Linked DNA regions of Homo sapiens: all the other regions are linked to region 1. Evidence: fine-mapped expression QTL. A gene starts in region 1. Each other region holds a variant in brackets. All regions are shown on one strand. Distances are between the middles of the regions.

The links. PIP is the estimated chance that this variant, and not a neighbour inherited with it, causes the effect.
Region 2: its variant is fine-mapped to the expression of STPG1 in hippocampus (GTEx, PIP 0.96).
Region 3: its variant is fine-mapped to the expression of STPG1 in prefrontal cortex (CommonMind, PIP 0.95).

Annotation. Positions count from the first base shown.
Region 1 is chr1:24,406,996-24,417,341 of GRCh38, reverse strand. It overlaps STPG1 (sperm tail PG-rich repeat containing 1), which reads left to right and starts at 3,560. Exons shown (of 9, transcript NM_001199013.2): 1 at 3,560-3,668. NIPAL3 (NIPA like domain containing 3) reads right to left here and starts at 1,540. Exons shown (of 12, transcript NM_020448.5): 1 at 1,438-1,540. RefSeq lists an enhancer at 3,945-4,064.
Region 2 is chr1:24,956,753-24,967,461 of GRCh38, reverse strand. RUNX3-AS1 (RUNX3 antisense RNA 1) reads right to left here. Exons shown (of 4, transcript NR_183341.1): 2 at 9,983-10,050; 3 at 5,221-5,415; 4 at 2,754-4,487. It also overlaps a transcript of RUNX3 not described here. Among named protein-coding and RNA genes, the nearest start is that of RUNX3-AS1, 32 kb to the right of the region's middle. RefSeq lists enhancers at 1,645-1,744, 2,105-2,214, 3,886-3,945, 4,146-4,275, 8,392-8,581 and 4 more and silencers at 2,285-2,484, 5,862-5,941. The variant C/T (reference allele first, on the strand shown) is at 4,113.
Region 3 is chr1:24,359,503-24,370,211 of GRCh38, reverse strand. STPG1 (sperm tail PG-rich repeat containing 1) reads left to right here. Exons shown (of 9, transcript NM_001199013.2): 7 at 373-538; 8 at 9,171-9,361. It also overlaps a transcript of GRHL3 not described here. Among named protein-coding and RNA genes, the nearest start is that of GRHL3-AS1, 43 kb to the right of the region's middle. RefSeq lists enhancers at 4,885-4,934, 4,699-4,993, 4,196-5,395. The variant T/C (reference allele first, on the strand shown) is at 6,622.

The DNA of each region.
Region 1 (10,346 bases):
TGAAGCAGTCATGGAGTTGAGGAGCGCAAACTCCAGTGAGGTGTTTGCGGAATACCCTGTTCAGTTGCTCCCAGCTGAGATCTAGCCCAGAGCCTGACAGTGACTTCTATACATACCAACCAACTGACTAAATGAGATCTAGCCCAGAGCCTGACAGTGACTTGTATACATACCAACCGACTGACTAAATGCAGGCTGGTTAAGCACTGGGTGCACTGTGGCCCCTTCGCAGTCAAGAATGCCTTTCTAAGGCCTAATCAACCACAACTCCAGAGCTTCAACAAGCAGATATACTCAGCCCCACCCACAGGAGGTCAGAGAAAGCCAACAGACCTTAGCGACATGTCAATCAAGGGAGTGGTGGGAACCCAGGCCTCCTAACATCCTTCAGAGTAGTTTGCCCAAGTGCTTTTCTGGTTTTGCTTTTGTTTGTGGTGGTTGGCATTGCTGTGGTTTAATTTTTCTTTTAAAAAGCAGCTTCCCTCTCTGCCTCAGGAACTCGCAGGCCTCTGAAGCATCGCCTGCAAAGATTGAAGGCTCTCCCTCAGCTGGGTGGGAGTCCGGACTGAAAGCCTGGAGGAACCCTTTGCAAGCTGTACTCCCTTATAAGACACATACTTTTCACCTGGTGACTCTCTTTTCCTGATTTCGAAGCATTTCTTCAGGACCTACATATGCCCGAGAGGCAAGCAGTCACCTCTGCGTTGTCAACCACCCCACAATTAGAGCACGTGGTCACTGACCCAAGGAAGGAATGAGAATTCACTAGGTGCTCTGCTTCCATTCCCACCCCGTTTATCTCGATGACGGATTTCACCAATCCCACAGAGCACGTTTTACAAATGAGACAGCCGTGGCTCATAGCGTCTGTATTCGAATTTGCCTCTTTCTGAACAAATCAATAAAACACGCTCTTTCCCACCACCCGACGATCTGGCTTCTGGAGGTGAGCGCCAGTTCCCTGCCAAGCTTCCCGTTCCTCGGCTTTGGCTCACGAGAAGGTTACATTCTTCCGTCCCGTCCCACTGAGCTGGAAACTTACAACTCGAGGAGACAGCACCTCTGTTCCAGAAGCGGGCTTAGACCAAGAACGCCTCCCCTCATCCCACCTGCTAACTCCACCATCTGCTGCCGCCAGGAAGCCCGAGCCGCTCGGCACGAAGAGGAGAAATTCTGGCAAAGTTAACTCCATGTCACTTCCTGGTTTGGTAGAGCCTGGCATCACCTTTAGTAAGGTAGCCCATGCCCCCGCTCCTCTTGGCCTCGATGCAAAACTGGAAAGAACATTCCAAGGCAACGGGACCCAGGTTGGCGAGGCTGGTGACAGTAAGAAGGAAGGGTATGTACACTAGGGGACGTTAGGTGACTTCGCTTTTTCCAGAAAAAAACGAAGGTTAAATTCAATTCCCCTTCCTCCCGGTGTTAATCACTACTCACCGGCGGCGTCTCCTCTAAGGCCCACCTATCAAAACCTTCTGAGAAATGACTCGGACTCTTCGTGCAACCCGGAGGCACAGCCTCCTTCATCCCTTCCCAATTCAGAGCTGCCAAGATGCTGCAGTGTTTTGCTTTCAAAGGTCGCGATTTGATTTGCCAGACTGCCTGCCAGTCAGAAGTTGGCAGGCATTTCGCGCAGGCAAGTGGCTGCGAGGACGGGGAGTAGGCGGGACAGCCCCTGGCAATTGGCTGCGCTGCAAAGCTTGCTTGAAGCATAAGGGAGCGACCTGGGGCTAGAGCTTGGCGCTCACCTGGAGCGGGGACCCCCTAGCGGCCACAGGAAGAATGGTGCGGCGACTCCCCTGCCCCCTCTCCCGCTGTCCCAGAGAGCTTAGGTGGTTGCTCGCCTCCACCTGCCCGGCAGGTGGGCCTGGTTTTAGCAGCCTGCCAGGTGTCCTCCCTTCTTATCCTCATAGCCACCTTCCGGGCTTTGCTCCTGCTGTTCCCCTACCCGACGCTCTCACCAAGTATTCAAATCCAAAACGTCCTTGAAGACCCAGCGCTCCCCAGAGCCCTCGCGAGACTTGGGACCAAACATATCTCTCCTTTCCTGCCCTCCTGGAACACCTGTCGGATACCAAGCCTCCCAGCAATACTGAAGGTCCTGAAACGAGCCCAGCGCTTGGTTAATGTTTCTATAATGTACATAATTATCACGGCCATGATAATTAACATGCGCATGGAGTTTTACAGATGACAAGCTTCTCATCGCTCACACGTTGTCATATACACGCATTTGCTTTCAGATCGTCACAGCCATGAGTGAGACTTGAAGCCCGTTTTACGTATGAAGAAATGTCATTTGGGCCTAGACATCAACAATGAGAAAGAGGCAGTTCTAGTCTCAGATCGTGGGGCAGAGAAAGCTCCTTGGGAACATGGGAGAGGAACGAGTTGGTGCATTGTAGAAACTGCCCGAAGGCCAGCAGGGCTGGTGAGAGATTTTTCTGGGGGCGTGGTTGGGCCTGCGATCTGAGGGACGGGCCAGGGACAGTTTATAAATAACATATTTGGGGGCCGGCGCGGTGGCTCACACCTGTAATCTCAGGACTTTGGGAGGCCAGGAGGATCACTTAAGCCCAGGAGTTTGAGACCAGCCTGGACAATATAGTGGGACCCCATCTCTACAAAAAAATTTAAAAATTAGCCGGGCGTGGTGGCGAGCGCCCGTGGTCCCAGCTACTCAGGAGGCTGAGGCGGGAGGATCGCTTGAACTCGGGAGGCGGAGGTTGCAGCGAGTCGAGATCGCGCCACTGCACTCCAGCTGGGCGACAGAGCAAGACCCTGTCAAAAAAAAAAAAAAAAAAAAAAAAGCTTGGATTTCACCCTAAATTTAAAGGCGAGCCATTGGAGGACTTTAAGCAGGGGAGTGACAAGGTCGCTGAGACCGCCCTGCCCTGAAGCGTGTGAAGAGGGGCTCCTGGAATACTAAGTGGCTGCCCTTGTATAGTCGCCCATGTCAATTTTTTTTTTTTTCTTCTGTTAGAAACAGGGCTTGGGGCCGGGCGTGGTGGCTCACGCCTGTAATCCCAACACTTTGGGAGGCCGAGGCGGGTGGATCACCTGAGGTCAGGAGTTCGAGACCAGCCTGGCCAACGTGGTGAAACCCTGTCTCTACTAAAAATACAAAAAGAATAGCCTGGCGTGGTGGCGAGCGCCGGTAATCCCAGCTACTCAGGAGGCTGAAGCAGGAGCATCGCTTGAACCTGGAGGGCGGAGGTTGCAGTGAGCCAAGATTGCGCCACTGCACTACAGCCTGCTCGACAAAGCGAGACTCTGTCTCAAAAAAAAAAGAAACAGGGCTTGGATGAATGTTAATTCTTTTAGGTATATTCCTTGAAGCAGGATTTTTGAGTGAGCAAAATTCTGAGGCTTTTGGTTTATCACAAGATTTTTGAAGCATGGCCTAGATAAACCTCTTATTAGTTCCCCACCCCGCTACAGGCCCTGATGTAATTAACCTAAGCCCTAAAATTCGGCCGGCTTCTCTGCGGACTTTGAAACGCCTCTAATGATTGGTCAACAACTTTTCACGTTAAAGAAACAGAGGATGCCATTGGCTGGAGTTACCTCGCGGACGGCGGAAGGTGGACTCGCGAATGTTAGGCCTGTGGGTGCCATAGCGACCGGGAGGTTGGGCTGGCCAGATTCAGCTGCCGGGACCGGACCAGGTAGGAAGCAGTTCCGGCGGGGGGACCGGTCCCTGAGGTCGTGGGGAAGAGGACACGGCGCACCATGTCCTCCGCATGGGACGCCCGCGGAGACCCCCCGGCCTCCGGGTGCTTGCGGAATTCCAGGGCTGAGCTAGGTGGAGCCCCGAGGGCGGGAAGAAGCCACCATGGGAGTTGCCCCTGCGTCGGGGCGTGTCCTCGGTGTTTCCACCCGAAAAGTGGTGACAACTGGGGCTTGCCTGCTCCACCGAGCTCCTGCCAGGGGCGTGGGCGTCCGACCCTTCTGGCTCAGGCTCCGCGAGTGCGCAAAAGTTGGGAGGCTTCAGTGCCTGGCAGTGGGTGGACGCCAAAGACCTGATCTCTACTCATAGGTTCACCCCAGCTCAGGGGGTGTCCCCCAGCAAACGACTTCCCTGCTCTGGGCCTCGATTTACCCATCTGTAAAATAAAAGGGTGAGATTGGAACCTGGTGGTCACTAGCCCGCCGCTAAATTTCCTTCCAGCTCCCTGATACACTTTCTCAGCCTATGAAGACTATCGAATGGGTTATTTACCTGAGAGTGCTTTGAAAAAATGTAAGCTGCTTCCAAGATGCTTATAACTGAGTAGATAAAAATCGCCTACAGACGAAACTACTCAGGACATCCAAAAAAATTCTATCTAAAGTAACAGTATACATAGTTTAGTACATGTTTATATACCCTGTACAGTAACATGTATAATGTAAACTGTAATACTTAGCATATATAACGTTTTTTAAAAACACAAGAGATGATAAAATGAAACTGTGCCTATAGTTGTGATCATGTGAGCTGTCCTTGTAGAATCTAACTCCCGCTGGAAATATATTCTGAGCACAGCTGTACACACAATTGCTAAAAGGTGTCTACCTCTAGTATTCATTCATTCATTCATTCCACCAATATTTATGAAGAAAATACTAATTTTAAAAATTCTCAATACTATTATTATTATTTTTGTAGAGACAGGGCCTTGCTATGTTGCCCAGGGTAGTCTTGAACTTCTGTCTCAAGCCATCCTTCCCCCTCAGCCTCTCAAAGTGCTGGGATTACGGGTGTGGGCCACCATGCCTGGCCAATTGAGCAAATACTGTATGTGAGGAAATAGACTGAAGATTCAGAGTTGAACTTTCTACTGGGGAAGATCATAAACAAATAAAGTAATAAACATACAATATAATGTTGGGTAGTGAAAAGTGCTTTGAAAAAGATAAAGCAGAGTAAGGGGCTAGAGAGAGATGGGTTGGTGCTTCTTAAGAGAGGGTGGTCAGGGAAGTCATCCCTAAGAAGGTTTGAGCAGAGAGTCTCGTGAATTTTGTGACAGGACTGCAGGACGATGCCTGGGTCCGGTGAGGAAAGGAGCTCCCCATGCAGCAAGGAGATATGTGGCAAAAGCCAGGGAGGTCCCATGTGGAGAAGAAGATTAGTCTTTAGGTGGTGGGGCACGACAACTGCCTTCAAATTCTTGCAGAATAGTCATATAGAACAGTGGCTTTCAAACCTTTTGACTGTGACTCATGGTAAATGCATTTTATATTGTGACCCAGCATGCACACACGCATATGACAAACTAAAACTTCACAAAAGACTACAGACTATGACTTGCATTTTGAAAATCACCAATGTGGAAGAGAAATGAGACTTACTTTGAGTTGGTTCCAAGGGTGGGAATTAGGACGGATAGAAAAAGAAAAAAAGAGAGAGAGAATCAGCTTTGATACAGGAAGGAACTTTCTAGCAATTAGAACTGTCCAACAGTGAACTTCCCCCAGGAGTTTTTAAACTGTGTTCTGATGAAACCTAGCATTCTGTGAATATTCAAGAGAGTCAAATATTTGCCCCCACCCAGCCATCCCTTATTTGCTTTATATTTTGAAAACTATATGCAATATTGTAACTTCAGAAACCCAACCAGGTAAGGCACGGTGGCTCACTGTAATCCCAGTGCTTTGGGAAGCTGAGGTGAGAAGATCACTTGAGGCTAGGATTTCGAGACCATCCTGGGCAGCATAGGTGAGACATTGTCTTTACAAAAAATTTTAAAACTAGCCAGGTGTGGTGGCAGGTGTCTGTAGTCCTAGCTACTCTGGAGGCTGAGGTGGGAGGATCACTTGAGCCTAGGAGTTTGAGGTTGCAGTAAGCTATGATTGCACCACTGCACTCTAGCAAGTGGACGACACAGCAAGATCCTATTTCTAAAAATAATAATAACAAACCAATCATACCCACTCGGGTGCTAAATGTCAAAATTTAGCAAGTTAATATTTAGTGTGTGCTGCCTGAGAGGTTATTATAGAGGTTAAGGAGTGAGTAGAAGTCAGACTTCCTGAGTTCAAAGCCTGATTCCACTTTTCTTCTAATGTGACTTTGGGCAAGTCACTTAACCCCCCACCAAACTTAAGTTTTCTCATCTGTAAAAAGTGGGGATTATACCTCACTGGATTATTATAAAAATTGCATAAGGTATTCCATAGAAGGCATTTAGGACTGTGCAGGCTCAATAAATGATAGCTATTATTTTAAGTTGTTAATACGATATCCCTGTGCGTATATTAAAACCCTACATTAATACAAGCCTACTGCAGGATAGGCAGTGTTAACCACTTCACATGGATCAGCCTAAGAGGAAGGTACTGTTATCACTCCCAGTTTATGGAGGAGGAAATAGGCTCAGAAGTTTAAGTGACTCATCGAGAATCAGAGCTATTAAGTGGCAGGCCATAACCTTGAACCCAGGACTGGATACTCTGGACTGCTGCGCTGGCCCCCACGTAGGAATCGCTTAAACATATGTTGTTGATTCGGAAAGTGGTATATCTTCACTGCTCTTTCTTAGATTCTAGGTCCATGCCATCCTGTCATGGACAGTTATACAGGTGGACCAGTGAGGCACACCTGGGCAGTGCTCTGTTCACATCTGTCCTGCACCTGCTCTCATCCTGCCTTCACAGGTATGCAGTGAGAAGACTGGAAAGCATTATTAACAGTGTGGTCTTTTGGTGGTAGGATTGGGGATTGTTTTTTATTTGTTTGTTTGTTTGTTTTGAGACGGAGTCTCGCTCTGTTGCCCAGGCTGGAGTGCGGTGGCGCGATCTTGGCTCACTGCAATCTTCACCTCCTGGGTTCAAGCGATTCTCCTGCATCAGTCTCCTGAGTAGCTGGGACTACAGGTGCACGCCACCATGTCCAGCTAATTTTTGTATTTTTAGTAGACATGGGGTTTCACTGTGTTAGCCAGGATGGTCTGGATCTCCTGACCTCATGATCCGCCCACCTCGGCCTCGCAAAGTGCTGGGATTACAGGTGTGAGCCACAGCGCTCGGCCATGGATTGCAGATTGTTTAAAGTTTTTTTGTAATTTATCATATTTTCTTAAATGTTGACAGTGTACATACATTATTATTATAGTAGTCCTCCCTTATTCAAGGGGGATATGTTCCAAGACCACCAGTAGATGCCAGTGAAACAGTGGATAATACCCAAACTGATTACTGTCAATCAGACTGTTTCTGTTCATATCTTCCACTCACAAATTTAATGCTTTTTCCATCTTAACTAAGCACTTATCATGCTCTGTGGCAACAGCTTTTTATAGTTTGAGGTGAAGCACCAAAACTAGCACCAATTTTTTTCCCCTTTGAAATTTGATGGATAGAAGTTTTATTCTTACTGTAGATCTTAGCAACCTCAGAATACAGTTTTTTTCTTGCCTTATTAAGTCAAGAACTTTCACCTTTTCACATAAAGGAGGCACTTTACAGCTTGTCTTTGGCATGTCCAAAGTGCTGGCATCACTACTCTTGTGCTTTGGGGCCATTATTAAGTAAAGTAAGAGTTACTTGAACACAAGCACTGAGACAACGTGATGGTGGATCTGACAATCGAGATGGCTACTAAGTGACTAATGGTGGGGTAGCAAATACAGCTTGAATGTGCTGGACAAGGATGATTCACATCCCAGGTAGGGTGGAGTCAGACGATAGGAGATTTCATCACATGCCTCAGAATGGTGCATAATTTAAAGCTGATGAATTATTTATTTCTGGAATTTTCCATTTAATATTTTCAAACCACAATTGACCATGGGTAACTGAAACTGGAAAATAAAGCTACAGACAAGGGTGGACTACTGTAAAACAGGAAGCTTAATATTTTTCTAATCACTCATAATTCCAGAACACTAATACATTTTTTAATAACAGCTTTATTAAAGCTAGGGCAGTAGATGGTTCTTACTAAAATGGTATAACACTGAGGGGTGGTAAATGAATAGTGGCTGCTTTGGTTATTTTTTGAGACAGGGTCTCACTTTGTCACCCAGGCTGAAGAACAGTGGCACGAACATAGCTTACTGCAGCCTTGACCTCTTGGGCTCAAGTGATCCTCCTGCCCCAGCCCCTAAGGTAGCTGGGACTACAGGCACATGCCACCATGCCTGGTTAATTTTTATATTTTTTGTAGAGACGGACTTTCACCATGTTTCCCAGGCTGGTCATGAGCTCAAGCTATCGCCTAACCTCGGCCTCCCAAAGTGCTGGGATTACAGGAGTGACCCACCACACCCAGCCCTAGGGGCTGCTTTTATAGATACTAAAAGACCTTGTTAAGCTGGATTGGTGATTGTGCTTTGATCATTATTGATTTGTTTCTGTTATTTTGAATCTCTTAATTTCTTGAAGAATGTTGTCAATAATTCTATTAAATATCAAATTTTTAGTATAGATTGTCCACCAAAAAAAAGTTGAAAATTGCTGCTGTGAGGATTACAGAATAAAGTAAGGAAAAATACTGCATGGAAAAGGACCAGTAGAGTGTAAAATCATTTATTCAATCCTTTACTCATTAGTATATATAAATGGTATAAGTTCCTTAGGGAAAAAAATGGGCAAAATGAAACCCAAGTCTGCTAATAAAAAATAATTGCTATGGAAATTAAATTGTGCCCTTGCTATTAACAACTAAAAAGTAGTTAAATGTGTTAAACAACTCACATTGGACAACAGGCACAGTACAATAATCCCTGAAGGAAGAAAAACACGGTGAGTCCTACAATTGCCCCCATTTAGTACTGGGGTCAGTTTTTAGGCCATATTGTAGGAAATCCAAATGAATTCTAGATTTCTGAGTTGAGAAGATAAAAATAAGAATTCAGAGAGGCCAAAGAGGCTAGAATTTATAGGGAGAACCCTAAAGGAAGGAGCTGCACCAAAAATGTTCAGAAACCTGAAGAGAGGTCTCCTTAAGTTTTTGGCTGAGCAGTAATCTGCACATGCATGAGAAGAAACTAAGACTGGGGAAATACCCATCAAAAGGCCATAGGCTGAACAATTTCTGGGGCTTAAACAGAACTGGGAATGTTGCATGTTACCATAAACCAGAATGCAGAGACATGGTATTAGATAGGAATTGGGTAGAGTTCACAGAAATGTCATGCCTTAGTAGTGGGGATAAATTATTCCCAGAATAAAAGCTGCTCTGGACTTGCCATAACAAAGTTTAAAAGCTTGAAAGGGTCAGATGGATCTACAAGTTACTGAAAAGTGTGCCACATCCTTTGCAGGAATATATCAAAACCCAGCACCCAGCAATGTAAAATTCAAAATGTCCAATATCTAATACAAAATTACCAGACATGAAAAGGAAAATATGACCCATATCTGAGAGGAAAATCAACCAATAGGAACAGACTTAAAAATGACAGATTATAGAATTAGTACAAAGAAACCTTAAAGCAGCTACTATGAATCTTACAAATATTCCTAAGGATGTAAAGGAAACTGAACATGATGAGGCTAGAAATAGAAGACATAGAAAAAGAGCCCAAATGTAACCTCTAGAAAGAAAAAATACAATATTTGAAATAAGAATGCAATGGATGGGATTTGCAGCTGATGAGACTTCAGAAGATCAGTGAACTTGGCCGGGCATGGTGGCTCATGCCTGTAATCCCAGCACTTTGGGAGGCCAAGGCAGGTAGATCACAAGGTCAAGAGTTCAAGACCAGCCTGGCCAAGATGGTGAAACCCCGTGTCTACTAAAAATACAAAAATTAGCCAGGCATGGTGGCAGGCACCTGTACCCAGCTACTCGGGAGGCTGACACAGAGAATTGCTTGAAGCTGGGGGCAGAGGGTGCAGTGAGCCGAGATTGCGCCACTGCAATCCAGCCTGGGTGACAGAGCGGGACTCCGTCAAAAAAAAAAAAAAAAAATCAGTGAACTTGAAGACATGACAATATAGACTACCCAAATGAAGGACAGAGAGAAAAGAGACTTAAAAATATTGAACAGAATATCAATAACCTTTGGGAAAATATGAAATGATCTAATATAACTGTAGCCCCAGGAAAGAAGGTGGCAGAGGCAGAAAAACTATTTGAAAAAATAATGGCTGAATATTTTCCAAATTTGGTGAAAACTGTAGCCTACAGATTAAAGAAGTTCATTAAAACCCAAATATTAAAGACATAAAGAAAATTATGCCAAGGTACCATGAAAATAAAATTGCTGAGAGGCACATAGAATAGTCAAAGTAATAGAAATAGAAAGTACAATGGTGGTTGCCAGGGATTGCAGGGAAAAAGGAATGGGGAAATACTGAGGAAACACCATATTGTAGGAAATACTGGGGAAGTACCATATTGGTTAATGGGTATAGCA
Region 2 (10,709 bases), 550 kb before region 1:
AAGCTTGGCTCCAATTCACCACATTGCCCCGAGAATGCATTGAACTACTCGGTGCACAGATGGATCACTGGGCCGTGCACAGCCTCTTGAATTCCCTCCCCTTCCTGGGCCTGGACTCAGGTTCCCAGGGAGGGGGAAGCCCCTCAGGGTGATCAAGTTATAGGGGCTTGGGGGGGGCCCACTCTTAGGTGTGGAAAAAACAGCAAAGCACGTAGGGTGGTATGTTCAAAACTGGAGGCGGTGTTGGTGGAATGGAAACAGCTCCTGGGCTGGGAAGCAGGGGCTTGGGTTCCACTGACTCATTGGGTGAACTTGGATGAGTCTCTGCTCCTCTGGGGGCCGCAGTTTCGGCTTCTGTATAAGGGGGGGTCTTCCCAGCTGTGTCATTCTCCAATCTATTTCACAGATGGCTGACTCCAAAAGGCATCAAATTCAACCAGGAGGTCAAGGCCCCTTGGCAGGTCCCCCCTGTGCCATTGACCCCTGAGGGTCCCATGCAGGCTGGCCAGCTGATGAGTTTACAACACAGGGTGGGGGCGGGGCAGCCTCTCCCCCTGCATGACTGTCATAGCTCCTTACTTGAGCTGACTCATAACGGAGCCCAAATTGCGTCATGGAGGCTCAGCCAAGGAAACCAATGTTTATGATGCCCTCACCCCGTGCCTGTCCCTTTGAAGAAGGTGTTATCCCCATTTTACAGGGAAGAAAACTGAGGCCCAGAGAAAGGAAGTGACTTTCCCCAGGGTCTGGCTGCTCAGATTCAGCAGAGCTGGGGCTGGAAGCCAAATCTGACTCTAGAGCTCTGTGGCTGTCACCATAAACCTGCTTCCTCTCTGGCCAAATTAGAACTCTTGTCCCCACCACCCCCACCCTCAGCACCAATTGACCCACCATTCAGGGACAGAAGACTGAATCTTCATGAGGCTTGAGATGAGGCTGAGTGAGCGTTTCCAAGGCCATCTTCTGCACATGTGCCTTGGGCAGAAACAAGTCTCTTTGGGACCTTGGACCAGCCCATCCTCTTCCAGGGATGTCCCCACCCCATCCTTGTTGGCCTACAGAGGCTACTGTGAGTCAGAGGCTGGTGCTAGGTTCTAGCCCCAAGCCTGGGGTCCCTGGGAGAGGCCAGGGGTTGGTGGCCAGGCTGCAGAGGGACTTTCTGAAGTCTTCATTTAAAGGGCATGGAAGGGCACTCTGGTGTCATGCCCAAGGTCGGGGCTGGTGAGTCAGAGGCTGAAGTTCCAATCCCATTCCAGAATACCACATGACCTTAGACAAGCTGGCGTCACCACCCTGGGCCTCGCAGCCTGGCCTGTGAAATGGGAGAGTAGAGCTTGCAAGGGAAATGGTAAAAGCCGCCACCTTTCCCCCACTCTCCACCCTCTCTCCCATCCTGACATGACTTTGGGGAACATGCAAGTATAGGGTTCAATCGTCTTCATGACTTTTCTACTTTTGAGCCTCTCTGGGCCTTGACTCCTCAAGGACATGAAGACACAAAGGGCGCTTCTGGTGAGGGGAACAGCATGAGCGAAGGCCCGGAGGCAGGGAAGCTCCCGAGCATCATGCTGGGGCAGAGACCCCCAAGGGGATGCGCAGGTGGCAACAAGAGGAGTAAAGGGCCCTGAATGACATGCTGGGGACTCAGCCCCCAGCCCTGCAGAGGGCCCCCCAGTGCGGGCAGGCCACCAGGTTTCCACAGGAAGGCCCTTCTCGGTGGGCAGGCCGAGGCCAGGCGTGAGTGCTGGCAATGCCACTTCATGTGTTTCCCGTTGTACTTAGTCCCAACTCCCATAAAAGCCCCAGAGGTGCCACCCAGCCACACATGTGGACACCTCTCCCTGGCAACAATGGTGGTGGACAATGGCAGGGAGTCAGCCGCAGCCCAGGGGCGAGGTGGCATGGCAGGGAGCTCTCCGGCCGCTGGTGGATCCGGGCTCTGGGCACTCGGTGAGGGGCCCGCGGGGCTCCTAGCCCGCCCAGGCCAATGCTGGCCTTAATTAAGAAGGAGTCTCCCACCCAGGAGCCAAACCACCCTCCTGGCCACGCCCACTGCAACCGCTTTCAGTTCTGTTTCTTGGGCCGCGTGCTGAGGCCAGCCTCACAAATAAAAGCCATCACTTTTCTATTTCTCTCTCTCTCTCTCTTTCTTTTTTTTTTTTTTCTTTTCCAAAAAGAGAGGCAGCCACAAGATCTTCTAAAAGGCCGTGACATCACGGCCCAGGTGACCGCGGCCCAGCCAATGAGCCAAGGCCGCGAGCAGGCTTCTCGCATCCTGTGAGCTGAGGTTGGGTTGACACTGGGAAGGCCTGGTCCCTCAACCACAGAACCACAAGGCCAGGCCCTTGCCGCCTCCAGGGCCCTGCGCGGGAGCTGGTTGGCTCCTGGTGCTCCCCACCCCCGGCCGCCCTCGTACCCACCAGAGCCTGGGCTCTGTCAAGGGTAAGCCTCATTCATTCATTCCCCGTGGCACTGGAGGCGGCCCACTCTGCTCTGTCAGCTTCGGAGCTCCTCCACCCTGGCTGCCGAAAGCCCCTTCCCGCCATCTAATGATACACTCTGCATACGCTTCTGTTGAGAATTTGTGGCTAGACATTCCTGTGGGACCGGGAATCCAAATTCTTGGGTACAAACAGAAACTTACTTTCCTTGGGGATTTTTTTCTCTCTCTCACTCACACACACTCTCGCGTTCTTTCCTTTTTTCTTTTTCGTAGCAGCAGGGGGGAAAAAAGAGACAAAAACAAAACAAAAAACAACAAAAAGCAACACCCCCCCCTTTTATTTTCAAAAGTAGCTAGAGGAAAAAAAAATAAAACAACAGCCAACCAAGTGAATCCCAACCCAACCCCCTGAAGGGCTGAAAATTCTCGCCTTCTTCAGAGCGGGGCATGGCATCGAACAGCATCTTCGACTCCTTCCCGACCTACTCGCCGACCTTCATCCGCGGTGAGTAACAATAGCCCAGGGCCCTGGGTGGGGAGCTGTGGCCAGGCCCCGGACCACGTCCCTCCACTGACCGCCCTGGCTGCCCTCAAGCGCACAGCCTGTCCGCCTAAATCCGCTGGCCTCTGAAAGCCTGAGGTGGGAAGAGGGGTTGGTGGTCTCTGTGGTCTCTTGGCGTGGAACATCGCTGTGGCACTTTCATCCTCCGCTGGTGGGGACAGTAAGCCGTGGGGGCGATGGATACTCCAAGACCTCAAGACCTCAAAGGGCAGCCCTCAGAGGGGCCAAGGGAAACTCTCAGGGACCCTCGGCTTGCTGCTTCACTAACAGGGCCCCAGGGCCTGCAGCCCCAGCCCCTGTCCTGCCTGGGACTCCCCACCTGGGCTCAGGAGGTCACTGCTGGCAACTTCTGGGGAGAGCTGTGGGATGCAGGGGTCTTCCTGGAGACCACCGCCAACATTTTGTGTGTAACTCCTGGGGTATCAGAAGCAGAGGGAGGAGAAGGAAGCCACAGGCTTTTGTGGAAAACTGCACAGAGCTGGGCTGCACTGAAGCTGGACCTGCACGGGGCAGGGGGACAGACCTCGAGAAAGTTCGTGGATTTGGCCACGGAAGAGGAGAAAGTGTTTCTGGGCAGCTTTTGCCTTTTTTGGTGGCTGCAGGGATGCAGAGTTCTGGGTTGTGTCTCCCAGCAAGGATAGGGGGTCTGGGATCCCCGACCTGGAGCCTCTAATGGGGCTGGGACTCATGGGGAGACTTCTCCTGCCTCTGTCTGGCATTTAGGGCTGATGCACCCTGGCCTCAGACACCCCCTGCTGCCTTCCTCCTCCCTAGCAGGAGCCCAGATGGGGCTGTGACACCTGAGACTGGGGATCAAGAGTCCCTGAGCTCAAGTCCCACGGCTCAGTGGCTTCCTTGCTGAGAGACCTTAGGAGGGGAGTTACTTAACCTCTCTGTGCCCCAAATAGAGTCCCCTCTGCTTGTGGAATTCTCATTGTCTGAGCCTGGGGGTGGACCATGTATAAGGGCAGTGCCTCTGGATGGTTCCAGAACAGAGAGGCTGCATGAGATCTAGAACTTCAGGGTTGGGGGCTGGTGCTGCCTTTCCTCAGCCGAGGCAGTCAGCAGAGATGCAGAGGTGGGTCTGCCTGCCTGCCTACCCTCCAG[C/T]CCATTGGCCTGCCCTGCCGCTGGCTGACCGAGTGATTCAGGGCTGCTGCCTGGGTGGCCGGCTCGGGGCAGGGACCCAGACACATTTGGGTGTTTGAGTCCTCAGGCTTCTGGGAAGGCTTGTCTGAGAGCGGGGCCTGTTCTTCTTCCCTGGTGAGGCCAAGGAAGGCTGTGCTGCTGCAGATGGGGACTGAGTCGGGGAGTGAAGGGGGCCTGCTGTCCCCTGAAATGGGGGCACTCCCATCAAACCTAGCTGTAGCTGATGATGAGCGGCAGCCCCAGGTCTGAGAGCTGAGAGCTGTGGCTGCTTCCTTGGAGTTGCTGCTATTATAACGTTGTTCCCTTTGTAGTCCTCGGAGCTAATTAAAGGCAGTTCTGTGGCAAGAAAATAAGAGTTTATAAAATCCATTTGCCGGGTCTTTGTAATCTGTATTTCTCCTTCCGTGCGCAAGATGGAGAAATGTAGGGTTTAAAACAAAGGAACCTTGGGAGACAGGGCTAGAGCCCCGGTCGGCCTGGGCTGGGTCCTGATCCTCGGAGCCTGGGAGGTGGCTGGCAGTAGCACAAAGGGCACAAAGGGAGAGGTGGCTTTGGCCCAACATGTCATGTATGCGCCCAGAGACAGGAGGCCGCTGGGCAGAGCGGGCTGATCCTGGCCAGCAGTGGCACAGAAGGCGCCTCATAGGCTAGGGTCTGTGGAGATGTTTGGATCTGGGGTCTGTGGCCCGAGGGCCTTCCCTCCACTTTTGTGGAGACCTGTCTCCCCTCTTCAGCCTTCTCTCTCCTGTTCATTTCTGCTCACGACGTGCTCGCCATGGGGGCCTGTCTCCCAAATCCCATCCCTGGAGGCTTACAGGGCTCCAGCTGCCAATTCCTTCCTCAAAGAGACGCAGCCCCAGGGTCCCATTTGCAGGGTGCCAACCCCACGCTGCCCCCTACAGGGTCCCTAACCCACCGACCCTTGGCAGTCTCAGGGAACCTTCAGGTTCCTCCTCGGAGTTGCGTTTTTAAACGCGTAAGACAAAATCCAAAGGATTACAAAGGAAAAGAAATCGATGGAAATACCATTGTCAAACTCAGAAAGCAAGCTGGTGACATATTGACTCACGTTTTCCATTTGTTGAACTCCATTTGTCTGTGCCTCTTCAAGAACTCACTGAGTGACAAGACCCCGCGGTGGGCCATGCAGTTGTGATGAGCATGAACAATATTTCAGGTCATCCCTGACCCCGCTGTGATACCAGAGAACACCTGTGATTTCCACTGGTGGAAAATCGCCATGGAATATGATGCTAAATTTCAGCTAGAGGCCAGGGAAAGGAAAGACACGGTTATCTCCAGCCCAGTGTCACAGACCCCCTAAATTATACGCAAGACAAAAACTCCAGGTCCATCCGGGTCTCGGGTTCTCAGAATCTTACTCGGGCTGTTCTCTCGTCCACAGGCTTTTACCAGAAGGGGAAGGGTCTCCCTGTGCCCCCCACTGCCTCCTCTTCCTCCTACCTGTGTCTTCCAAATGCCATCCCATCTCAGTCCCTGAGCAAAGTGTGATGGAGCCAGCAGGTTTTCTGAAATCACCGCCCCTAGAGAGTTTTAAACACTGGATTCCCAGTTCCTACCTCAGGCTGTGGAGGATTCTCCATTCCTACCTCAGACTGCGGAATCAGAATCTCTAGGGTTTGGGCCTGGGCAGGTGTGGTTTTGCAAATCCCCTAAAGCGATTCTGATGTGCCTCTCAGGCAGGCTTGGGGACTGCTGCCAGGGAAGCCCAGTCCCCTACCTGCCTCTGCCGCCTGTGTGCTGTGAGACTGTGTCTGAGTCACTTGACATCTCTGGATCCGTGTTCTCTCATGAGTAAAAGGGCACGAGTGAGTTGCATTTGGTGCCTCCTATGTGGGCTTCTCTGTCTCCCCCACCTGACAACCCAGGGTGGTCCCTAGAATTATCACCGAGCTCCTACTACCTCAGGGTCCCCATAGACCAACGGAAGATGACTTCCCTTTTGTCTTCACTGGCAAAAACAGGCTGAGAATGAAGCATCCCATCCATGCCTCTGCCTTCAGGCACCTGTACTCAGCCAGTGCCACAGCCTGTGCAGGGGCCTTCAAGGCAGCAAGGGAGAGATCCAGACCCCTGGAGAGTCCGACTGCTTGTGCATGACATTCCCACGGCTCCCACCCAGCCCTCCCCTCTCAGTTTCTCTGACTTTGAGCTAAGGGATCAGAAACTCCCCTCAGTTCACTGTGGAGAGAAGGGGTGTGGGAAAAGGGTGGAGAGGCATTTGGTTCCCATCCTGCAGTAGAGGCGTGAGCAGGAGGTGAGAAGAGGGCAACGCCTACCCTCAGGGCTGGTGCATGGATGGTGGAATTCTAGAAGCTGGAATGGAAGGTGTGAGAGGGCACAGGGGCCCCCTGGGGTCTACCCCCAGGCAGGACAAGGGGGATTTATTCTCCCTGTGTGACAAATGGGGAAGCTGAGACCTAAGAGCTGTGATCCAGACACTCTGTGTAACTAAGGACAAGTCCCTTCCTCTCTCTGGGCCTCAGTTTCCCCGTCTGACAATTATGGGCCAATGGCCCTGAGGACCCCTTGCCCATGCACGGTTCCACTGGGGGCCAGAACCTTCATTCTGAATCTGCCTCATGAGGCCCTCCTCTGCACCCCCTGGGGCACCCCCCCCTCACACCAGGTCACCTTTGCTGAACCCTCACTTGTACCCCCACAGGCAAACACTCACCAGGGACACTGGCAGTGGGTGCCCCTCCAGGGAGGGAAGCCAAGGAAATGGGCCCAAACTGCCACATGTAGGCTTTAAGGGGGCTCTGGGGCGGCGGGGGGGCAAACGCGTTCATCTGTTTAGTCAGTCATTTCCCAAAAACTTATCGAGGTGTAGAGTATCGAGATTCCAGCTTGGGCTTTAGAGCCAGGCTCTCCAGGTTCAAGTCCTGACTCTGCCCTCTGCCGTCACCTGCATGAGTTACTTCACTTCTCTGTCTCTGGTTTCCTCATCTGTAGGGGTTACACCAACCTTGCAGAGCTATGGAGAGAATTAAAGGAGCATGATGCCTGGCACAGAGTAGTTGCTCAATAAGCATTTTCCATTTGATGAACACCATGAGCATGGCCTTGTACTGGGAGCCCGGGGGAAACTGGGTCAGGATCTCCATCCTAAGAGCTCACCATCTGGTGTAGAAAAAGATGGGTCAACAGAAAATTGCCCTGGGGCGTGACAAAGGTTTTTTGGGAGAAGAACCAGGGCTGTGAGTTCAAAGAGGGGTACTAGCCCAGCCTTGGGAAAGAGAGAACAAGTCCTCTGGAGGAGTGACTTGGAAACTGGGTCCCTAAGGGTAAAGAGGTAACAAAGACAGGGAAAGGATGTTCCAGGCAGAAGGAACGTCCTGGGCAAAGGTGTGGAAGCAGGAAAGTATGAGCTGGCTCGGGAGCCACAGGGAGGGCTGGGAGCGTGGTGTGGGTCTGGCCGAGGTCCCCCTAGCAGTGGTTGGAGTTGGCCGGCAGCTCCTCCCCTGAAGATGCCTGGGAGAAATGGAAAGTGGACTCTTGGGTATGAGGCAGGCCTGTGTGGAGGCAGGGGGTGGACAAAATGGCCCTGGGCAGGTCTGGCCGAGATGGTCTGACTCAGAGGTCACCGGACAGGGAGGAGGCTGCCCAGACCAGAGAGGTCAGTCACTGTATCCTTTCCGAAGGTCCAGGAAGTTCCAATAACAGGGGACTCTCTGTTTTAGCACTGAAAGCTCCACGTCCCAGGAAACCCCTTCATCCCAGGCAACCCCTGATGGCTGGTCACCCTGAGCACATGTGTCCATGGGGCCTCCCCCTCCCCGCCATCCCTGGGAGAGGAACAGACTGACCGCCAGCCCTTCCGTGCCCACTATGGCGCTTGCCTGGCGCCACGTCTGCTAGGTCCCTTTGATGGCGGCTTCTGAGGCTGCCCTGCACACACCCGTCTCCCCAGACCACCCTGCCTGTCCAAAGTGCCCCCCAGGCTGGAAAAGCATTCCTAGGAGCCCCCCACTGCCCACAGGGTCTAGGCAGGCATGAGCCGACCCCACACAGCGGGACTGTGTGTCCAGGCCTCACCGCACCCACTCTGGCGGGCTGGAGGCCCCCAGCAGCCCCACTGGTCATATAGAGGGCTCATTGACGCCTGGGCCTGGAGGTGGCCGCATCAAAGCGGAGGCTCCCTCGGTTACCTGGAGGGAGGAGGCCGGGAGACGGATAAGCAGAGCCTGAAAACCTGACCTTCCAGCGGGCTGTGAGAGGCAGGAGGAGAGTGGCAGCCTCTGACCCCGGCCTTGCCACTGAGCCAGTCCGGACTCCTCCATGGGTGGGGAAACAGGCCTGGGCTCTGGGTTCAGTGGGGCAGCCCCAACACCAGCTCTTATTGCCATCTCCTGGGGATGCCTTATCTGCAGACTCTTCCTCAAATCTGCCACCCAGAGTGTGCCCCCACCCCCCGTAGTTGGGGAATCTCACCCAATCTTCCAGACTGAACCCAAACACCCCCTCTGCTAGGAGTCAGTGCTGGGACACCTGCAGCCACTGGGGAGCCCTGTCCTCCTGAGCTTCAGTCCGTGGGCCTGCCCTGAGACTCAGCGAGTAGTTCCCTACCTTGCTTAGTGGAAGTAAAGAGAAGGAAGGAAGGAAGGGAGGGGTGGAGGGAAGAAAGATTGCCTTTAGCCCTCAGTGGATCTACAGCCCAGGCCTTTGCCATCTGCCCTAAAATAGCACCTCCTGAAGCCCCTGGACACAGTGGGGATGGGAATCTCGGGCCTAGGGCTGGGAGTGGGACTCTGGTCTTGCTTTGAGAAGTCACAAGAACAAGGAACAGTGAATCAGTCCAGGAGCATATCAGAGCCCGGAGGCAGAGAGTTCCCCTCCTCATTTCATACATGACGAAACTGAGGTCTAAAGAGGTGTGTGGTCTTGTAAAACATTGAATTCAGCAGCAGGAAAACTGACTTTCCTTGCCTCCCTGGGGTCCAATCATCCGCCTTGCACACAGTTTAGGAGTCAGAACAATCTAGGCTTAAACTGCATGGTAGCTGGGTGACCTGACATGTTAATTCACCTCTTAAGGTCTCAGTTTCCTCCTCTGTAAAATGGGCTAGTAACACTGACCTCAAAGGGTGGTTGGGAGGAGCAACTGTGGCCCTACCCTGAGCCCCGCATGTGGCACCTGGTACACAGGGAGCACTGGCCTGGCACAGGCCGGCCTCCTGATCGGCTCGGGCCCCTCTGCGCCAGCGTGATCCCCTGCCACTCAACAGATGTTTCCACATCTCACCCTCCTGCTCTTTCTCCAGCGCCAAGCCCTGGTTTTTTCAGGGCTAGAGAGGGCTGAGCAGGCACAAGACTAGAGGGACTGTCAGACCCCTTGTCAATGGCTCCCAGGGATAAAGGAAGGCACTCTTCGGAGAGAAAGCAATGTAAAATGCGGCTATAAGCCTCAGCTGCAGCCAGGCTCTGCCACTTCCTCGCTGTGTGGCGTTGGGAGAGGTGCCTCACCTCTCTGTGTTTCATTTTCTTACCTGTAAAATGGAGAAAATGAATAGCACCCCCTCAAGGCATGTTGGGTAGGTTTAATGAGGTAGTGTGTATCACGTGCACAGCACAGGGCCCGGCACAGACAAGCCCTCATGGAATGCCAGAAATTACTACTATTTAATGTTCCTCCTCCTCTGCAAAAGCCTTCTGTCTGACTCTAAGCAGGATGTGGAAGGTGAGAAACCCTGGCCTGTCTTCTCAAGGCCCAGCTTCATGGCCGCCCCCTTGGGGAGCCTTCCCAGCCCTTCCCTTTCTCCCCTCCAGGCGGTGGGGGTGCTCTGCCATTGCTGCCCCTCACTACTCACCCCACAGGTGTCCAAAGGGTGTTCTTGGGAGCAGGGGCAGGCTCACAGGTGATATTCAGCCCTTCTCACTGAATGGATAGAGGAAAGAAAGAAAGAATGGATGGATGGATGGATGGATGGATGGATGGATGGATGGATGGATGAACGAATGAATGGGCTGACGATTGGTCAGCCTGAGAGTTTTCCAGCTTCTCCCTCACTTCCCCCTTCACTGTCTGGCTTCTTCTTTGAAACACTTGTTGGCGCGAGCCTGAGCACTCCGGTCCAATCGGTGCAGGCAGCGTGAAGGTTTAGGTTCCTCTTTGGGGTTTTCTTTCGAGTCTGGGAAAAGTGTTTTTGGCAAAAGGTTCAGACTTACGTGTGGGCGGAAAGGGCAGACGCATATAACTTATGATTTGAAGGGTGACCAAAGTCAGCCCCCTCCAAACATCCTTCAACGTGGGACATGGTGACTGAGATTCCACCAGCACATGCAGTCCCTGTGGGGGGGAGCTTTTGTAAATGCAGGTCCCTTCCCATCATGCACACCTGAGTGTCCACAGTCTGCCTGATTCCTTGGCCTTTGTTGAGAGGAGTTAAAAGGCTGGAGCAGAGGAAACAGAGGGCATCTGGGGGACGGAACGCTTGGAGAACGCAAAGGGAAAGGCGGATGGAGTGGAAAGGGGTGGGGAGGAAAGGAGGGGTCCATTTTGGTCATGCCCCTATTCCCAAACCCAACTTGCCTGGG
Region 3 (10,709 bases), 47 kb after region 1:
TTAGTTTATAGAGAAGGAAAACTGGGCTCCAGCAAGGTGGAGAGATTTGTCTAAGTCCCTGGTTAGATGAATGTCCTTTGGCAAATTATTTAACAATCTCTGAGTCTCAGTTTCCCATGTGTAGAATGAAAGCAGTAATACTCATCTTGCCAGGCTAGTGCGAGAACTAAATCAGCTAAGTGTGTGCTTCCCGTGCCATCTGTTCTCTGCATGGTGAGGATTGTTTTTGGCTATCTCAGTCAGCCCTTCCACTTGGCCATCCTAGAGTGATGGTGCCTTGCAGCCATCAGGTGTGTTCTTAGGGGTAAGGTACTGCTTTTTATTTACTTGAGAAGAGTTCCTTATTCTGTCCTAAAATTTCTTTCTCCTTAGGGCATTATGATATCAACGAATCCCTTGTGAAGCAGTCGCCAAATACATTAATGTCTTGTTTTAAATCAAAAACCAACCGTGGATTAAAACTGACGTCAACAGGCCCGGGACCTGGTTATTACAACCCCAGTGATTGCACAAAAGTTCCAAAAAAGACTCTTTTCCCGTGAGTCCCAATCATTCTGGTCTTTCTTTTGAAAGGTGGTTGTGGGGAAGAAGCCCAACATAGAGAAAAGGATGGGGTGTCACTGCTTGGCAGAGCACAGTGCCGGGCCACTCTCTTCAGGGGCCCTTAGTCACACATAATGATGCTCAGTAAATGCCTGTTGAATGCCTGATACTTATTGAGCAACCACTGTGTGCCAGGAACTTAAAATTGTATTCAATTATTATTATAATCCTGTTGTAAGAATTGTTACTCTTACCCCATAGAGGAGGAAGCAAGGCTTCGGATTTGGCGGGACATTTGCCCAAGTCCACACAGCCAACTTGAGGAGCCACAGGGAATTGGCTCAGGACTAAGTCTTTCCTCATTCCCTGTGATGCTGGATTCCCCTGGTGCTGACATTGTTCTATTTTTGTAACATAAAATCTTCGCTGGAGTGGCAGGACATTCAGAAGCAGTCAAGCTCTCATAGCTTTATACCGATGGAAGTTTAAGCCCTGACTTTCGAGTTGGTGATACCTGCTGGATTTGTACTTCAGCTCTGCTGTTTTTATGCTCTGTGACCTTGGGCAGAGTTCTAACCTCTCTGAGCCTCCATGCCCTCATCTGTAAGGTGGGAATAATTCCTGCCTCGTAGGATTTTGCTTTCAGAATTAAAAATACATGTTTGGCTGGGCGCAGCAGCTTGCGCCTGTAATCCCAGCACTTTGGGAGGCCGAGGTGGGCGAATCACTTGAGATCAGGTGTTCGAGACCAGTCTGGCCAACATGGTGAAACCCTGTCTCTACTAAAAATACAAAAATTATCCAGGCATGATGGTGCACGCCTGTAATCCTAGCTACTCGGGAGGCTGAGGCAGGAGAATCACTTGGACCTGTGAGGCCCAGATTGTGGTGAGCCGAGATTGCGCCACTGCACTCCAGCCTGGGTGACAGAGTGAGACCCTGTCTCAAAAAACAAAAAAAGTAAATAAAATATATGTTTGGCATTGGCATTGCAGCTGGTGACTCAAAATTAACACAGATTTTTAAAAGTAAATACAGGGATTTTTGTTACCCTGTTTAATATCCTACACATTTTATATTACTCTCACCTAAGAGGCTCAAATACTCACAGAGCTTATTTATTTCTCGAATGGTTCTAGAACTTCTGGAACTAACTGCAGTTAGGGTTAGTCCTCCTGTTACCATCTCAGCTCTCACCCATGCGTAGCCCCTCCAGACAGAGCTGGCCACTGGGAGGGCTGGCCAGGTGGGACCAACAATATATCCTCTTGGGCCCCTCCAGAGAGATCAGGCAGGTGTTAGGAGCCATAGCCACAGTGGGTCAGAAGTCCAGGCAACCCAGGGAGGCTGCCAACATTGGGCATAGTCTGATCATCAGCCTAGGGCAAGGGGACCACAGTTAGAGAGAGGTGCAAGTTGTGAATCTGCCAAGTCGAACTTAAGATCTGGAGAGGGGATTGAGACCTCAGCTGGAATCCACCAGAGGAGTCCCTTCTGCCCTCCAGGTCTAGGGCTCTGCAGGCTGGCCTTGTACAGGCTGTAGGGCTAGGGGCTGGGGCAGGCCAGTCTCCAGGAACAGCTCTGTCTCTGGAAAGTCTCTCTCCAGAGACCTCCCGCCTCCAGGCTGGCATGCGGCATCTCTACAAGTAACTATTCCCTTACTCTGCCAGAGAAAGAGTGGTCAAGAGGACAGGTGTTGGAGTTGGCCGACCAGAGTATGAATCCCAGCTCTGTACCTTCCAGAGACTTCTCCTCTCTGAGCCTCAGTTTTATGTTATTAAGTAGAGATAAGGATCTTATCTCGTAGGGATTCCATGAAGATTCGATGAGAAGATGTTGGAAAATAGCTATTACCGGTTGGGCATGGTGACTCACGCCTGTAATCCCAGCATTTTGGGAGCCCAAGGCAGATGGATCACTTGAGGCTAGGAGTTTGAGACCAGTCTGGCCAACATGGCAAAACCCCATCTCTACTAAAAATACAAAGCTGGGCGTGGTGGAGGGCGCCTGTAATCCCAGCTACTCAGGAGGCTGAGGCAGGAGAATTGCTTGAACCGGGGAGGTGGAGGTTGCAGTGAGCCGAGATCATGCCACTGCACTCCAGCCTGGGTGACAGAGCAAGACTTGGTCTCAAAAAGAAAGAAAATAGCTATTACCCTTATAATGATAGCTGTGGTTATTGTATATCCTATAGACCTACTAGGCTATATTATACAATACAGCTGTTATTTGGCATGGCAGCTCAAGCCCCCAGCCCAAATTTGGAAGCTTCTTCAAGGAAAATGGTGAAATAACATAAGAGTGGAGGATGCTCAATTTTTAACTGCTTTATCTGGAGAAATATCTTCTGGCTTTTGCTCAAGTTTGAACAGGTGGTTTGAGATCGTTCTTATTTTATGGCGTTTGCATTTGTCAGTCAGCAGACTCTATAGATTTCTAGTTCTGTACTGGAGGCTCAGGTGAACAGGACACCACGCCTCCAGCCAACCTCATCTGGGAACAGCCTCGAAGCCAGGTGGAGGAGCCTGCAGCAAAATGCCGGGTTAGGTGGCCCCAGGGGTGTATGGCCATGTACAACCCATGGGGCCGTCTTCCCACTGGGCAGTGCAGCGGGACTGCGTGTCTGGGGCTTCTAGGGCTCGCTGGCTCTCTGTCAATGCTTCACAAATAAAAGGTCTTTGGTTAATAAGTCTGAGAAGCACTGCATCGTAACCCTCTGCCCCTGAGAACATCGCAGTCTGCACAGGCATCTTAAAGGCTCTGAGAAGGCCTGCAGTAAAGGAACCTATTAACCCGCTGTCTCCTAAACTTGGGTTCACCCTGATGAGGGGATGGTGCCCCAGGCTCTATAGCACGACATTTGTATAGCTGGCTCTGTGGTCTGGGGCTGCTCTGGGCACCTCTCTGGGTCTTCATTTCTCTATAAGCGAAAGAAGGGTGTCTGCATTTCTGACACATCAGAATCCCAGGTTTGCTCACCATGGACTCAGGAGAGCACACAGGGGACAACGAACGTGGAGCCAGCCTGGACCCACAGAGGAGGTCCAGATTATGTATTTTAAAATTAACGTGGGAAAGATGAAGCTAAGAAATTTATCATTTTATTTGGAAAGCAAGAAGATAAGACTGGTAGGCTTTGGACTATTCTAAAAAAAACATTTATCTGTTCCCGATGAATGATGAAGAAAATGATGTAATGAAAAGAAAAGACAGCTGAATATCAGAGTGTTGAGGAAATATCCAAAATCCAGTTTCTCAAATTCCAGTTCTGTTTTCTCCTGTGTCCCTGGAGGGAAGAGAGGGACAGGAGCTACACGGGTTCCTGAGGTCAGTAGACCCCTGAGGTGACCCCATCTGCATGCACCTTCCCTTAGGACTTTGTCCACATCAGAACTAATCCTCTTTAGCTCTCCACGGCTACGTGGAGCGGCGGTGACTTGCCGCCATGTTTCTTTCTCGGGAACACACGCGTGCCATGCAGGGGGAGACCTGCCCTCATCTGTCTTGGGTTGGAGTTGATGGGCTTCCCATTCTTGGGCAGAGTTACAGCTACAGAAATGCTTTTCTGGATCTGCTTTCTTCAGGGTGCAGGAAGCATCAGTGCAGATATGAATTCTCCCTGGAGTTTTTAGTCTCATGTTACTGGCCAAAAAATGTAAAGCCCAGCCGTGAGAGGATGGCTGGATATGACCAAAGCTCAGGAGGCCACCATTAGGGCAGGGAACGGCTGATCACGTCCCCTGAAGAGGCCATGGAGGCAGCGTGGGCAGTGGATTGATTAGCGTAGGCCCCAAAGTCAGTACCATGGAACCTCCACTTTCCCTGCTCACCAGCCCTGTGGGCCTGGGGGAAGGGAGGTCACTTAACTCCCAGTGGGTTCAAAGTCATCCTTGGTGAACCAGGATAAGAACACCTCATAATGTGGTTGTAAGGATAAAAGGAGATAACCCACAAAATTCACATGGTAACTTGTATTTTTATCAAAGCAGGTGAGCGGGTCCTCTGTGTCTTCCTAGGGTTTCTAGTGTGGCCCCGCAGGGCGGATGCTGTGCTTGGGGCTGGCTGTTTGTTAGCACTGGCATTTCTGAGCTCCTTAGCTAAAGGTCATGCCATCGGGTGTTCCTTGGCCATGGCCACCTTGCTGACTCAAAGCTAAGAGGACTTCTCAGCTTCCAGGGTGTCTTCAGAAGCAAAGTGAAGTATCAGCCAAGGTTTCGCTTCTGAGGTCTTCAATATCCGTCACAGTGATGACTCAATCACTTAGGGTGAGTCAGGGTGAGAGTTTTGGAGATCAAAATAGTTCCTCCTAGGCAATGCCTTCCAACTCATGCTCCCCAGCAAGGAGGTGCAACACTCAGGGCCATTTTTCTAACCCTTGATCTGCTTCCTGGAGTTTTAAGCCACTGGATTTGCACAGACACGCTGTCTTGTCACAGCTAGAGCTGAAAAATCAAGCCCCGTTGGCCCCACTCCAATTTTGGTAATTAGATTGGACCCACCCTAACTTCCCCTGGGATTTTCAATTAGATATGGGATGCTTCTTCCCAAGCAGCTGTAATCTGTCACCCGCTACCCTGTTAAACAGATACTGCATTCCACCCCAGAGGCAATCGGCTGCCCTTTAATGATGAGAAAAATTGCCCCTTTATCCCTCCCAACCCTGGGAATCCCTGAGGCGAGTGAATGTGTGCCTGGGAGTGTCTGGAGGGTCTCAGATGCTTTCCCCAAGTGGCCTGCTGAGTCCTCTAAGACATTCATTATTCTTAGGTGATTTGCAAACAGCTCACATTGGAAGCTGCAAACACACTTAATCCAGTTGTGGCCAACTCAGAGCCTTTGATAGATGTTTTCTTTCCACGGGGCAGGGCCAGGTTGGCTTTTATAACTGAGCAATGAGGCTCATAAAAGCCCTGGTCACAATGCACTGTGGGCTGCCCTGGGTTTGATCCAGCCTGACCTTTGTGATTTGTCAGCCCCACCTCGACATGGAGGGACCAGCCCTGGATGAGGATGAAACTGTCATGTGGGCCTCAGATGCCTGGGCTCCTTTACATGCTGCCAGCCCTCTGCTTTTCTCTGCACTTCAGCAAATGTTCCCGGGATAGGGCTAGGGGCCTCAAAGCTGAGGAAGACACAATACCTTCCCTTAAAGAGCTAGGCAAGTAAAAGCCATAGAAAATGCAACATTTTAAATGCAAAGTAATAGCCAGAATGTATTCAGGGGCCACATACTCTGAGCTGAGAGCTCTCAGATGTGACCTGCCGTCGTCCTTCCACCTCTCCTCCAGGTGGGTGTGTCATTCCGAGTTTACAGTGAAGTGCAGGCTGTTGACGGTGGTGGGGCTGGGATTTGAATCCAGGTCCCTCTGCCTCCAAAATCCATCTCCAAAACCCATGTTCCTCACTTGAGTCACAGGATGGGAACATTCAAGACAGTCAGGTGGGGGGTGGCGAGACAGGCGTGGGTGGAGGAGAGAAGTTTCCCTGGAAGAAAGTGAGAACGTCAAGAATTGAATTCGAGTTTGCAGGGAAAGTTGGTGTTTCTCACAGAAGGAACAGCAGGGACAAAGGCATGGAGTTGCTGAACTGTGTTGTGTTGGGTGTTTCTGGAAGGTAAAACGGAAGCAGCAGGACATGGGAGATTAGGCTGGATTGAGAGGCCATAAATAGATCTTGCCTTTAAGTTTTCATCAGGGTTTGTAAGTGGGGAGTATCAGAAGCAAGTGAACAACCCAGGAAATCACTGGTGAATGGAGGGTTGAAGGCAGTCTAGGTGCTCAGCGTCTGTCTCCTTGTGTCCCAATTCCTGCCATAACAGCTACAGCTTTCCCCATTCCATGCTTTTGCTCCTGCTGTTCCCTCTGCTGGAAATGCTCTTCCCCACCTGAAGATTTTCTGGATTTCTGGATGGATTTCTGGATTCATCTTGTTGGAATTAATGTCCCTCTGTCTCTGTCTCTTTCTCTCTGCTTTCAATGCAGTTTTTTATTTTAACCTCTATTCGAACAGATTTCATGTTTTTAAACAAATGTTACAAGTAAAGCACAATCTTCCTAACAATCTGGGTAGTAGGTATTA[T/C]TTCCACTGTTTTACAGATGAGGAAATTGAGGCTTAAGGAGGTTAAGAGCCTTTTCTAAGAACACATAGCTGTTGAACGGGGAAGTGGGGATTCAAACCCAGCTCTGTCTGAGTGCAAAGCCTGTACTGCCTGAAGTTGTCACCAGTCATGGCTGTTGCTGGCAGCGGATTGTCAAGCCCTTAAGGACACTCAAGTCCGTGTCTTAGTACAGAACTGCCTGGATTCCCAAGCATGCCTGGCCCAGAATCCCACACATGGCTGGTGCTCATGAAAGATCCATAGTGCTAGGCTGAAGGTTCTGAGCCTCTCCTGGGCATACTGAAGGAGTGGAAGACAAGAAACCTCTCTAACCCATCTTGCCAAGAACACTGGTGAGTCATTAACTCAGCGTGCTCCAGCCTTCTGCAGGCTGTCCTTGGCTAAGAAAGCAGACACCTCATGGTTTTCTCAAAGAACAGGGTGGGAATCTTGGGCTTGGAGTGACCCAGACCAGTGATGGGGTGACCTCATATAATGGTTGATTTGTTCCAGCTGTAATTTCCAGGAATCAAACCTGTCTCTCCATGATGCCAGCCACAAACTCATCAAATGTCTGGAGGTGTTTTGAAGGGGGAGCCACAAGCCAGAACAAGGAGAAGCCAGCTTTTATTTATAAGGGGAGAGGTTGTTGATTACACCCTGTAACCAGTTCTTCCATGCAGATTCATAGCAAACAGGGAGGCAGCATGTCCCCCCTTTCCCTGTGGGTACCTTTGTTCTAAATATAAGCATCCACGCCAGCTGCTCCTCCACCACAAGATGTGAGCCCAAGCACATTTATGATGGCTTTCAGTGTCCTCTCTGACCAGGGGGGTGTCCCCTGCCTCAGCATGACTCTGGGGTGGAAGGGCCCTGTCAGTCTTTTACGAGGCTCAGTTGCCTGTCTGTCACCAAGCAGCACACATTGATGCTGACACAGGGATCATCAGAAGAATAACAACTACCTTTATTGAGCACCTACTATGTGCTGGTGCTCTACTAGGTGCTTTACATACCTTTTCTCTGTTCATTGTAACTCCTTTATAAAGTTAGTGTCATTGTTCCTTGCAATGCTGTGTATACTGACGCTAAGCTATAGAGAAATCAGGGGCCTTGTCTTACAGCCAGTAAGTGGCATGACTAGAATTCAGCCTCAGGTTTGTGTGTGACCCTTAAACTCAGTCCCCTCCGCCATCATGCTTTCTCCATATTGCTAGGTGCCAAACACTTGAGTTCTATGCCAGCATTCCTACAAAGGTGCCTATAACTGGATCGGTTACTTTGTCTCTCCGGACACCAACATTTTTAGAAAACTAAGGAGGTTGAAGAAGACATCACTTGGGTCCCCTCAAGCTCTCTGTGTTTAAGAAGTTGTTGGCTAAAGTGCAGTAGTGCCCCAGTGGCCAGGAATCCCAAGTCCCCTCCTTTGCTTGGATGGGCTGGCTCCCTTGGTCATTGAGTGCTGGGGGAAGCTGGGGAAGGCTCCCTTGGCCATTCAGTGCGGAGAACCTCCTCTCCCCTTTTGGTGAGAAGCCTTTTAGAAGAAGCCTTGGGTGTGAGCCAGAAGGAGGCGGCCCTTCTATTACATGGTTGGGAGAGTAGCATGATTCCTGTAACAAGCGCAGAAGTCTCTGACAACCCAGTGGAACTTTGAATCAAGGCCTGATGAAAGGTCACAGCAGGAAGGGACCTCAGAGGTCATCTTGTCCAACCCCTTCCTTTTACAGATGGGGAAACTGAGGCCCAGAATGAGTTAGTGACCAAGCTAGGACTCAAGTACAGGTCCGGTCTTTCATTTCATGTCTCAATATCAGAGATAAAAGATAGACTCCCTTTCTGGAAGGAGGGGAAGACAGACTTGAAAACAATGGCGGTGTGAGTGGTAAAGGGTTATGCAGAGTCTCTTGATTTCCAGCCCGGTGCTTTTCCACTCCTGCCTCCTGCCTCCCCAGGATGATATTTAGTAGGATTCTGGAATGTCAATGTTACAGTGGCCTCTAAAGACCTGCTGGTCTTGGGATGGCAAATCTGTGGAATGTGGGATGCTTCTTTCTCTTCCCTGACCATGGCAGGCATCACAAGTGGGTCACTAAGGCCTCTTCCCATTGAGTCCATATGAGGCCTCAGTTTTTTTCACAGAACTCCAGCCAGGCACTACCAATCAATCAGAGTTGGCACATGAGATATACACGGCCTGCCATTTCTGGTTAGCTCCACATCTCCAGCAATGCACACTGAGCTCTCACTGTGTGCCAGGCCTATCCTGAGTACTGTGTTTTAGGTACGTCATCTCATTTATCCTGACAACCCTGACCTCAAAGTAGGTCCCATCATGATTGCCATGTGCAGATGAAGAAACAGATCCAGGGGTCCCCAGCTCACTACCAGTGGAGCTAGGGCTCTGCCCCAGTGCCGTGACCAGTCCTCTTCCAGACAGCTTGCTGCTGTGCAGGTCTTGGCTGTGTCTAGAAACTGTGCCTTCCCCACTAGACTGCCTTAGTGACATCTTCCCGTTTTATCTTTCCCAAAGGAAAAACCCCATCCTGAACTTCTCTGCTCAGCCTTCGCCTCTGCCTCCGAAGCCACCTTTCCCAGGTCCTGGTCAGTATGAGATCGTGGACTACTTAGGCCCCCGCAAGCATTTCATCTCTAGTGCATCATTCGTGTCCAATACCAGCCGGTGGACAGCGGCGCCGCCTCAGCCAGGCCTGCCTGGCCCAGGTCAGAGGATTGTTTTAAATGATTGTAAAAACCAAATCTTCTGGAACTGTTTGTCATTCTTGGGTCATCAAATGCCATTGATTTATAGGTTGTTTCCCAAATAGGTTACAGGGATGAGGGTAGATTTGGAAGCATTATCAGTTCACATTTTCACAGTACAAAAATGTTTTGTTTTTTAAGGTGAAAGGGCTCTTAGAGATGGTCCAGGCCAGGGATTCATACTGAGGACCATGAACATCTAAAAGATTCAAAGATAGTCTTGAAGGGGTCTGTGACTCTGCAGTTGGCTGAAGAATTGGCACATATAGACATTATTTTCTGGGAAAGGAGGCCATAGCTTTTGTCAGAGTGTCAGAAAAGTTCTTTTTCTTTATTATTATTAATTTTTTTTACTTTTATTTTTTTGAGACGGAGTCTCGCTGTATCGCCCAGGCTGGAGTGCAGTAGTGCGGTCTTGGCTCACAACTTCCGCCTCCCAGGTTCAGGCAATTCTCATGCCTCAGCCTCCCAAGTAGCTGGAATTACAGGTACATGCCACCACACCCAGCTACTTTTTGTATTTTTAGCAGAGACAGACAGGGGTTCGCTATGTTGGCTAGGCTGGTCTCGAACTCCTGACCTCAACTGGTCTGCCCGTCTTGGCCTCCCAGAGTGCTGGGATTACAGGCGTGAGCCACTGTGCCCAGCCAGAAAAGTTCTTTTTCTTAAAAATATTTAAACTACTGGTCTAGTGTGGCCAGGTTATTTTACAGCTGAGGAAGCCCTGGAGAGCAGGTGGGCCACAGGTCCGCAGCGAGTTCGTGGCGGGCAGTGCCAGGTGTTTCCCCATTTATGCCTTGTTTGTTCATGAAATTAACCAGGGACTGTCCAACGGAGCAGCTCTTTTGAACCTTCTAGCGCCACACTCTTTTTACAGGCAAGCATAAGTAGGGATCCCCTGTTACATCTGGGATCTACCTGGGAGCTAATATCATGAGGGACTCAGTCCAGTGGGCGGCCTCTGTGCTTCCTGACCTATTTGTAGCTCTCTATAGAGCGCTTTCGCTATTACCACAGCCTGACCATGGCCAAAGCTGGTGGCACTGGGGACTGACATGTGTGGCAGGTGGCATGGGAGGATGAAGGCAGAGCTGTGATGACTGCCAGCTTGGTTACACCCAGCCTTTCTGTGAGTGTTGACGATGCTCCCGTGCGAGGGAGCCAAGATGACCTGGGCCCCAGGTTTGCCCCCAGAGGCCACAGTCAGGTGGGGAGATGCCGTCAGCTCCATACTCACAGGTGAGACTAACATAAGGCAGACTGGGCCAGGAGAAGGTCATTCTCCTAGCTTTGGCCTTGCAAATGTGGT